Regions from separate parts of the Homo sapiens genome. Here region 1 is linked to region 2. Evidence: fine-mapped expression QTL. A gene starts in region 2. The other region holds a variant in brackets. All regions are shown on one strand. Distances are between the middles of the regions.

What was found. PIP is the estimated chance that this variant, and not a neighbour inherited with it, causes the effect. A credible set is the group of variants that fine-mapping cannot tell apart.
Region 1: its variant is the best candidate, but not a certain one, in a credible set for the expression of CTH in Th2 cells (Schmiedel 2018, PIP 0.65).

The regions. Positions count from the first base shown.
Region 1 is chr1:70,317,364-70,322,747 of GRCh38, reverse strand. All of the region lies in intron 3 of ANKRD13C (ankyrin repeat domain 13C), which reads left to right. Among named protein-coding and RNA genes, the nearest start is that of ANKRD13C, 35 kb to the left of the region's middle. The variant G/AG (reference allele first, on the strand shown) is at 3,096.
Region 2 is chr1:70,408,363-70,413,746 of GRCh38, reverse strand. It overlaps CTH (cystathionine gamma-lyase), which reads right to left and starts at 2,479. Exons shown (of 12, transcript NM_001902.6): 1 at 2,164-2,479. The coding sequence starts at 2,331. RefSeq lists a silencer at 2,439-2,588 and an enhancer at 2,649-2,908.

The sequences.
Region 1 (5,384 bases), 91 kb after region 2:
ATGCTGGGGTTACAGGTGTGAGCCACTGCGCCCGGCCTCAAGGATTCTTTACTCAGAGTCAGTATTTACTGAGTCCTTACTATAAAGCATGTGTGTGTATTAAGATGTGGAGAATAAAAGACCTGGTCTCTTCTGTTTAAGAATTCATAATTATTGGGAAGGCCAATAAACAAAATTTTCATGGAAAATTAGTTAAAGGATATTTAACAATCAATTTAAAGGTAAAAGATTGAGGCTCAGATAGTTGAGGTCTGTTCTTAAAGTGATTTTCTTATGTAGAGTGATACCTTAGCCATTCTAAATAATATCCCATTGTCCATTATTATGTAATTATATAACCATAATTGCTCGGTGCTTATATTTTCATTACTTTCCATCACATGAAACAAATACTTAACTGCTAACTTAAAGGATAATTAATTGAATATCTCTTACGGTTTATTAGAAATATTAATATAAATGTATAATGGTGTTAAACATATGTCTGTACTTATTTTTATTTATTTATTTTTTTTGAGACCGAGTTCAAGCGGTTCTCCTGAGTAGCTGGGACTACAGGCACCTGCCACAGTGCCCAACTAATTTTTGTATTTTTAGTAGAGATGGGGTTTCACCATGTTGGCCAGGCTGGTCTCGAATTCCTGACCTCAGGTAATCTACTTGCCTCGGCCTCCCAAAGTGCTGGGATTACAGGCGTGAGCCACCATGCCCGGCTATGTCTGTACTTTGAAATTATCTTAAGCACTGTGATTTAAGTTTTTGATTTTTTGGCTTGTGTTACATTAACATTTTATGTTTTTTGAAAAATCAGAGATAATCTAATATTATTAATTACTGGCAAAAACTTTGTGACCTATTTTTGTGTCCATTTCTTCTGATTTCTGATAATTTTGCTAACATTCTTGTACCACAAAACAGACAATGCAAACTACTTGTCAGAGACTGTTTAGAATCATTTCACTAATTAATAATAAAATTTCAAGATTATGTTGCTTTTCTGCCTTACAGTGGTTACCTGGTAAACAGTGATCAGCCCAGACCAGTATGAGATAGAGATATGGATACAACTAAAAAGCCTTTTTTTCCCACAATTTATCCCTCACCCATGGTTCCTAGCTTTCTCTGATCGAGACAGCTCTGGTTTCTTTATGCACTCTGGGATCTAGTTGTCTTTTGTCTCTCCAGAAGTTGTTCACAGTTTGTGCAGACTTATGTCATGGTATACTTGTGTTATGGTAGTTTTGGGAATTCTGTCGGCCTTTGTCTTATTTTTGTGGCACATCAAAGGTGTTAATGTGGAGGAAGAGACAGCAGTTCATATTGGTTTGCCATCTTACATTGAACTAGAAGTCTTCATTTAGCCTTCAATTTTAAATTTCTTTTTGAGAGAAGGCTTTTCTCAACTTCTAGAGTAGGTTAAGTTCTTCTTCTTGTACATTTTCAAAGTGGTTTAGTCTTTTCCTTTGCAATATGTTGCATACTTCTAATTAATTTTTCAGTATGTGTTCCCTACTCTGTGTATCTTGATAATATAAGCTTTGTGAGACTTCAAGTCATGCATATGTTATCTTATTCACCCCTTTATCTCTGGTACAATATTTGTTTAATGAATTAATGAAGAGATGAATAAAAACTACAAAGAAAATTCGAGACTGTGTATCAAGAATCAAAATTTTTCTTTAAAGTATTATATTAGATGCCAGTAACCCCAGCGCTTTGGGAGGCCAAAGCAGGCAGATTGCTTGAGCCTGGGAAACATAGGGGGACCCCAACACTACAAAAAGTACAAAAATTAGCTGGTGTGGTAGTGTGTGCCTGTAGTCCCAGCTACGCGGGAGCCTGAGGTGGGAGGATTGCTTGACCCTGGGAGGTGGAGGTAGCAGTGAGCTGAGATCACGCCACTGCACTCCAACCTGGGTGACAGAGTGAGACCCTGTCTAAAAAAAAAAAGAAAAAAGTAAAGTATTATAGTAGGACTTTTATTTATCACAACTCTCCTGAGTTTTCAAAACTTTGTTTTTTCTTATAAGAAAATGATGACATTCATCGTAGAAAATTAGGAATTATAGGGAAAAGAAAAGAAAATAATATCACTCAAAGATAACCACTGTTGGGTCAGGTGTGGTGGGGCATGCCTATAATCCCAGCACTTTGGGAGGCCGAGACAGGTGGGTCGCTTGAGCCTGGGAGTTCAAGACCAGCCTAAGCAGCATGGCAAAAACCTGTCTCTACAAAAAAATACAAAAATTAGCCAGGCATGGTGATGTGCGTATGTGGCCCCAGCTACTTGGGAGCTGAGATGGGAGGATCCACTTGAGCCTGGGAGGCTGAGGCTGTGGTGAGCTGACATTGTGCCACTGCACTCCAGCCTGGAGCCTGGGACAAAGTGAGACCCTGTCTCAAGAAAAAAAAAAAGACAACCACTGTTAATATTTTGTTATATTTTAGTTTCGTCTTCTGGTCATATTATTCTCTACATAAAATTCTTTAAAACCTCCTGTTCTGAGGACAAAGACCAAAATTGCTAACTTTGTTTATAAGGTCCAGTATGATACTATCACTTCCTTGTCTCCTTCCTCATCTTGTTCTTTCCATCTGGCTTTCTATGTGTCAGCTCTGCTGGCTTTTTGGTTTCTCATACTCCTCATACTTATATATCCCCCTCTTTTTGTCACAGCTCCTTAAGATTCTTCAGATCTCAGCTCAAGTACAAGGAAGTTTTCTCTGCTCATATATTGTCTCAGAACTCTGCCCATTCCCTTTAGGCAGAGTGTATGAGGCCAGGAATTGTCTATTTGTGTTCTGAATACCTACTAGATGTGTCAGAAACATAGTCAGGATGTGCCATTAACTTTGATATTGAGGAAGTCATCCTACTTAAGGGAGAGAGACCAGTGAATATTCTGTGGCATTCTGAAGTATTTACAAAGTCCTGGGGGAAACAGATGAGTGGAAAAGTTATTCAGGTTCTTAGCAAGGTGTTTGGTTATTAAAGCTGTCTCAAAGGGTTTTAGAAGTTAAAAAGGTGGGTAAAGGCATTCTACTGTGCGAGAGTGGAATGTGTATAAAGCATGGAAATATTAAAAAAAAAAAAA[G/AG]GCATATGCTAGGGAACAATATGTATTTGGTTTCTTTTTTTTTTTGAGATGGAGTTTCCCTCTTGTTGCTCAGGCTGGAATGCAATGGCGCGATCTTGGCTCTCTGCAGCCTCCGCCTCTCAGATTCAAGCAATTCTCCTGCCCCAGTCTCCCGAGTAGCTGAGATTACAGGCACCCGCCACCACACCCAGCTAATTTTTTGTATTTTTAGTAGAGACGGGGTTTCACTATGTTGGCCAGGCTGGTCTTGAACTCCTGACCTCAGGCAATCCACCCGGCTCGGCCTCCCAAAGTGCTGAGATTACAGGTGTGAGCCACCGTGCCCCTGTATTTGGCTTCTTAATGATACATGGCAAAGATGGATGAAGGGGCAAAGACCAGTGTTGGGAAATGAAGTTGTAATGATAAAAGGACCACATTGATATCAGCTTTATGTGCTAGTCAAGATTTTAATCCCAATTTCCAGTCTCTGCAAAACCCCAGAAGACTTCAAAGCAGGGCTTGTTATTATTAGATAAGTGAAAAGACTTTCTAATTAATACAGCGGAGTCAGGGAGGCAAGAGATATTTAGAACAAAACATTTTTGGAACAAATGAGGTAAGCTTGACTTAAAGACATAGTGTTTTTAGAGAAGGAAGGGATAGATCAGAAAGTAATTAAAAGAAAGGTTTAGCCGGGCGTGGTGGCTCATGCCTGCAATCCCAGAACTTTGGGAGGCTGAGGCAGGTGGATCATGATGTCAAGAGATCGAGACCATCCTGGCCAACATGGTGAAACCCTGTTTCTACTAAAAATACAAAAATTAGCTGGGCATGGTGGCGCACACCTGTAGTCCCAGCTACTCTGGAGACTGAGGCAGGAGAATAGCTTGAACCCAAGAGGCAGAGGTTGCAGTGAGCCAAGATTGCGCCGCTGCATTCCAGCCTGGCGACAGAGCGAGACTCCGTCTCAAAAAAAAAAAAAAAAAAAAAACAAAGATTGATTTAACAGAATGGATTATCTCTTGGATATGGGTAATGATAAAATGATTCAGAGTAACTCTAAGGTCTCTATTATGGATTGATGGTGATTTCATTACTTAATTGATATATAGACTATAGGAGCAAGAGCAGTATGGTCTTTAATTTGTGTTAGATTTGTTGGGTTTGAATCAACTGTAGTACATCAGGTAGAATTGTCCAGGTGGGAAGCAGGAAATAGATTGGAGCTTAGAAGGAAGAGGAGTGCAAAAGGTAACAGATTTAAGTAATACTTGGAGCAGTAGGGCATAGTTCCAAAAGCTTTAGGTCAAACTGTAAACTTCAGTCGGAGAAGGAGGAAGGAGAAAGTAAAATTAGTTGTGGTTTATGGACTTTTGCATTTGAGTCTTTGTATGAATTCTTTTATCACCTAAATCCTCTAAAGCTAATTTTAATCTTCATTGTTAATCAGTATTAATAAAATTCTTACAATATGGGAATACAAATACTGATCCCTAAAAAGGATACTGGTAATTGGTAATTTTGTGTAATTGCTTTCTGAATGTGCATCCATAAGAAGTTTGAGTTTATGGTATTTTTCAATATGAAGTCATATAGAAAAGGGAATCTCTTCGCATATGTTATTATACTGTGCTATATACAGTGGTTGCCATTACCTTTTTAATGATGTTTGGTCGTTATTTATTGAATGCCTTCAGCTTTTTAAATGATGTTTGGTCATTATTTACTGAATGCCTTCAGTCAGTTACAATTATATTTAGTTAATAAAATCAGGCTGATAAAAAAATATGTAGCCTCTGCTTTTTATTGAAAGACCCTTTTTATCTAGGAATTGAATTCTTTTCATTCTCTGCATTCAACTGAGGTCCATTTCAATCTGAAGGCAAGGTAGATTGAATAAGATTTATTAAGGTACTTGAGCTTATAGTAGAAAACAATGACCATTAAAAAGAATTGTACTACATTTGAGTAATATAACTTTGACATTAAAGTTAAATTATAATGAACAGGAAGGTTTGTCAGATTCATACTTGAATCTTTAAATGATTATCTAAGTCATTGATTCTCAGACTTTTTGGATTTCACAGACCAGAAAAATTTTTTTTACTGGTGATTGATATAGGGAATCTAACTTTTTCATCTTAGACTATCAGAACTTTATAAAAACGATAACTACTGTCTTTTGTGATCCACATTTTATTTTTAAAAAAAAGATATTTGAAACCAAAAGTAGGAAGAATAGTCTTTAAAAAAATTTATTAAGAAAAAACTCATTCTAGTACACATTTTTTCTCATTTTCTGTATAT
Region 2 (5,384 bases):
AAAAAAAGATATTAAGCAGAGTTTTTGTGGATTTAACCATCCCTGCTGGCTTCCTGGAAACATTTAATTATTAATATCACACCTGAATGGTAAACTTTTGCACTAAGTTCCAAAGCTTGGGCAGCTACACTTTCATTAAACCCTACACAAGAAACGAACTGCATGTTTGAAAGAGAGGCTGTGAGCCGGGCGCCGTGGCTCACACCTGTAATCCCAGCACTTTGGGAGGCCAAGGCGGGTGAATCACGAGGTCAGGAGTTCAAGAGCAGCCTGGCCAACATGGTGAAACCCCGTCTCTACTAAAAAAAATAAAAAATGAGTCAGGCGCAGTGGCAGGCGCCTGTAATCCCAGCTACTTAGGAGGCTGAGGCCGGAGAATCGCTTGAACCCGGGAGGCGGAGGTTGCAGTGAGCCGAGATCGCACCACTGCACTCCAGCCTGGGTGACAGAGTAAGACTCTCTCTGAAAAATAAAAAAAAAAAAAAAAGAAAGAAAGAAAGAGAGGCTGTGTACATATTTTGATTCTAAAATACAGTAAAGAGTATTCTAAACCAGTTGTAGAAATGGCCTTAGAACTGTATCTCACAAAACAAGGGACTGTCTGTAAGGATTTTCCTCAACTTATATAACACACTGAAGTGGTTTCCAAAGCATAATCAAGGCTTTGGACTTACAGACTTTAACTAATTCTTACAAATCTCAGCAACTTTTAAATTCTCTAAGATCCATCAAGTATGCCACCAAAAGGGGGAAAAAAGCTATGTGATTAACAAAGAGGGCTCCTTCGTAGGCTTTACAGATCATTCATGTATGACTCTGTGTCAGTTCCTTTTCTATAAAAAGTACATAATACCTGTCCTGCCTTCTGACCTGGTTGTTGTGAGGATCAAATGGAAATAGTGTAAATGTGAACATCATGAAAAAACAAATTACCATCGAGTAATTATTATGTACTATACAGCCTTAAATACATCTCAACAACTTATGTGGTAGATACTATTATTATCCCCATTTATACAGGATCAGTCAGAGGTTTTGATAGGTTAACTAACTTGCCCAAGGTCCCCCAGCTCAGAAGAAGTGGTGTCAGAATGCAAACCTAGCCTTTGACTATAAGATTTGTGTTCTCTTTTTCTGTTGTTGTTTGAGTTGGAGTTTCACTCTTGTCACCCAGGCTGGAGCACAATGGTGAGATCTTGGCTCACTGCAACCTCTGCCTCCTGGGTTCAAGCGATTCTCCTGCCTCAGCTTCCCGAGTAGCTGAGATTACCCGCCACCATGCCCAGCTAATTTATTTATTTTTAGTAGAGATGGGGTTTCACCATGTTGGCCAGGCTGGGCTCGAACTCCTGTCCTCAGGTGATCCACCCGCCTCAGCCTCCCAAAGTGCTGGGATTACAGGCGTAAGCCACTGCACCCGGTCATGAGTTGTGTTCTTAATCACTAAGCCACAGTGCTTAAATGACGCAATAGGCTAAATTGTTACTAGCATTATTAGAGATAGCATAGTGTAGCTGAGTGCCTAGGAGTTGGTTCCTAAAGCAACCTCAAGTTTCTAAAGTTTGAATTCCATCTCCAATACTTACTAGTCTAAGGCTAGTTACTTAACTCCCTAAATCTCAGCTTCTTTATTGGGAAAAAATGAGAATTCGGTTCAGACTAGGGTTGTTGTTAGGATTAGATGAGACAATACATGTAATACACATGATATATACGAGCACGTATTTGGCATATAGTAGGTACTCAATAACTATTCATACAGCTACTGGAAACAATCTTAATTCTAGTCAAGTTATCAGACCCTTAATATTTTTTAAGCTGACTCCGTACTACATCTTTAAAATTTATGCTGCTAAAGGTAACTCAAAAAAGTTATGACCTTCGATTTTTAATTGCAAATTTGTCAAAATCACCTGAATTTCAGGCCAAATCTAAATGGCAAGCTGGACAAACGGCTCCTTCCAGTCCTGCTTATCAAAAGAAATACGATCACTGGACCATCCGATACAAAGCTGTGCTGCAAGAATTACAGTGTAGAAACATCTTTCGGTTGCCTTCCTAATTTATAAGTCATATTATAAATTACTTACATGCCTTTCAAATTCATAAGCCGTATCTCTTTTACCGCCCAACTGTGGACAGCCCCAGACAGACCCAGCTCACCGAGTGCTGGCCAGGCGCCCCTTGCTTGAACGTGGTGGACAGTGAGATGGGGGGCACTACAGCCCTGGAGGTCCATTGCTCTGGATCCTGGCCCACATGGATCGCCTGCGTGGCGAAATGTTGGAAGTGTGGCAGGAAACCTTGTGAGGAGGCGTCTTTTTCCTGCATGCTGAACCGCGAAAGAAGAAGAGAGGAAAAGAACACCGAAGATATAACCAGTCGAAGCCGGGTGTCCGGGGTTGGGAGAGACAGAAGGATCAGGCGAGAAGGAGCTAAAGCACGCAGGTAGAGCCGACGGCGAGCGCACTAAAGCGGCACACAGCGATTGTTGGGGTGGATTTTATTAGCGGGTCTGCAGTCTCACGATCACAGTGGGGCGGGACCAGCGCGGCCCATTGAGCGCAGGCCCGACGCGTCTCCCGCTCCTTATTGGCTGACAGCAGAGGCGTTGCCTGAAACGTCACCGCGACCGCCCCACCCAGTGCACAAAGCGGAGTGAAGCTGGAGTCCCTGGGTCCAAGTGGTGTTAGTCCCTGCGGGCGAAATTCCTGAGTACCCGTCCTGAGGAGGCTGCCATGCTGGCTCCTGAGAGCCACCCGGGCGTCTCTGTGACCTCAGGCCGGAGGTTCGCCCGAGACGTGGCGGAAAGCTGGCTTAGTGTTGAAACCGGGTAACTGTAAACAGACCACATAAATAGCCTTCTTTTACTGTGGTAGTTACCTCTGACCACCATCCTTTGCCCTGAGGGCGGTGCTAAAAGACGTAAGCCACAACGTGGAGGGTGGTTAAGAAAACAGTTGCCCAAGCCGCCCAGTTTGCAGCTTGGATTCTCATCAGTCACAGCTTGCGTTTTAGGTACACTGAACTCTGTAATGACCCAGTGCTTACGATGACGAAACGATGACTAGAAGTGAAGGTTAAATTGTTCGTAAGACATAACGAAGCTACTGTAGTGAGGACGTCTATGCACAACTCTGGCAGCTTCCTAAAAGTTAGTCAATCTTGAGCTTTTTCAAGCATCATTATCTTCTTTTAAAGTACAGAGAGAAACTCCCCCTAATGAGAAAGATAATGTGGCTTTGAAATACTTACTGGAGCCTAACATCCTTACACAAAATGCTTTTGCTTTTACACAACAGCAACATCCCTGCAGGAAAAAGGATTGTTTACCACTCACCTGCGCCCAGAGCCCTACTCTCAGAAGAATCACTGCTTTAAAACAAAAATCTCCCTGTTCCCTAAGCAATACAGACTTGACCTACTTACTATTGTGGCTGTTTTCTAGCACCAGGAAATTTGGGGATATTTCTGTTGTTGCAAAATATTCGCTAAAGATCTAAAACTTTATTAAACAAATTAAGAACAAGGAGAATAAGGAATAAACAGCTCTTAAAATTTACAGTTTGAAAGAAAGATATGAAGAGAAAGAATGAGGCAATTTGCTTTTCAAATTAGCTTTAGGGACATTTAACCCATTAAGCACTAGAGGAGTGGTGCTTGAGGGCCTACAAGCTTTTAGAATCCTACCAAACTTTGTATGGCTGGGGGAAAAAATGGATAGACTTCAAAACACTAATGTATATTAATACATATTTAATTAATATTTTTCTTTTAAAAATATAACATCAACTGCAACTCACCTCAATATTTATGTATAACTATAGGTGGGTATTTTTGTGTAATATGATATGGCATTTAGGGGCCAAAAGGGTCTAAAACAGTTCCAATTAGTTTTACCTCCTAATATTTGCTGACAAACCCTGAGTTGCATAAATACAGACATTTTATTTAGTGTACTGTAATAAAGAATCATTCAGAAGACAGCACTAGGCTGGGTGCATTGGCTAACGCCTATTAATCCCAGCACTTTGGGAGGCCGAGGTGGGCGAATCACCTGAAGTCAAGAGTTCGAGACCAGCCTGGCCAGCAGGGTGAAACCCCATCTCTACAAAAAACACAAAACTTAGCTGGGCGTAGTGGTGCACACCTGTAATCCCAGCTCCTTGGGAGCCTGAGACAGGAGAATCGCTTGAACCCAGGAGGCGGAGGTTGCAGTGAGCCGAGATCATGTCACTGCACTACAGCCTGGGCCACAGAGTGAGACTCCATCTCAAAAAAAAAAAAAAAAAAGATAGCACCCAATACAAATGCTATAAATCAGGCCTTTTTTACTCTCTTAAACTGAGAAAACTTTATTGGATGCAGCTTAATATGTATCAAGGATTTAAAATATCCCCTTTCTATGACTCAGCAATTTCTTTTGTAGAAAATTTTACTTGCAGGAATTTATCCTTTAGATATATTCTTAATATGTGTACAGAGATGAGCAAGGATGCTTTTTAAACCTACGTTACTATTTTTAATAGCAAAAGAGTGAAAAATGGCTTAATTATTCATTCTTAAAAGACTGGTTAACTGGTTATGATACTACTCTGTGATGGCTACAGTATGGCCAAGAAGCAGGAAGAGATTGAGATGTGCTGGTATGTCAGAGTCTCGCTCTGTTACCCAGGCTGGAGTGCAGTGGTGCCATTTCGAATCACTGCAACCTCTGCCTCCAGGTTTCAAGAGATTCTTCTGCCTCAGCCTCCCAAGTAGCTGGGACTACAGATGCAGCCACCATGTCTGGCTAATTTTTGTATTTTTAGTAGAGATGGGTTTCACCATGTTGGCCAGGCTGGCCTCGAACTCCTTGCCTCAAGTGATCCACCAGCCTTGGCCTCCCAAAGTGCTGGTATTACAGGCATGAGCCACCACACCTGGCCTATTGATCTCTAATATCTAAGACAGCAAAGCAAAGTAACGTATACATCATGCTTCCACTTTTTCAAAAGAATATATACTATGTTGCATTATTTTCAGACAGATATTTATGATTTCATATGTATAAAAATCCTTCTGGTCATAGAGACTATGGATCTGCAGTGGAAAGGTGATTTTCTTTACATTTTATTCTCTTTTGTGTTCAAGTTTTATATCATGGGCACATATTACCTTTTCAACAATAATAATACTACCAAAAACCCTAATTTAAACATTTTAGAAAGACAACTGTATTTAGAAAAAAAGCTTTTTAAATGATTAAATGATAGCCACTTTAAATCCAATAAATGGTATATAGTTTGAGGTGTGTGCTAATTTTTCATATAAATTATGTTGCATACAACAAAATATCATAACACTTACAGAAGAATTATTAATTCTTCTTGGGAAGGAGATTC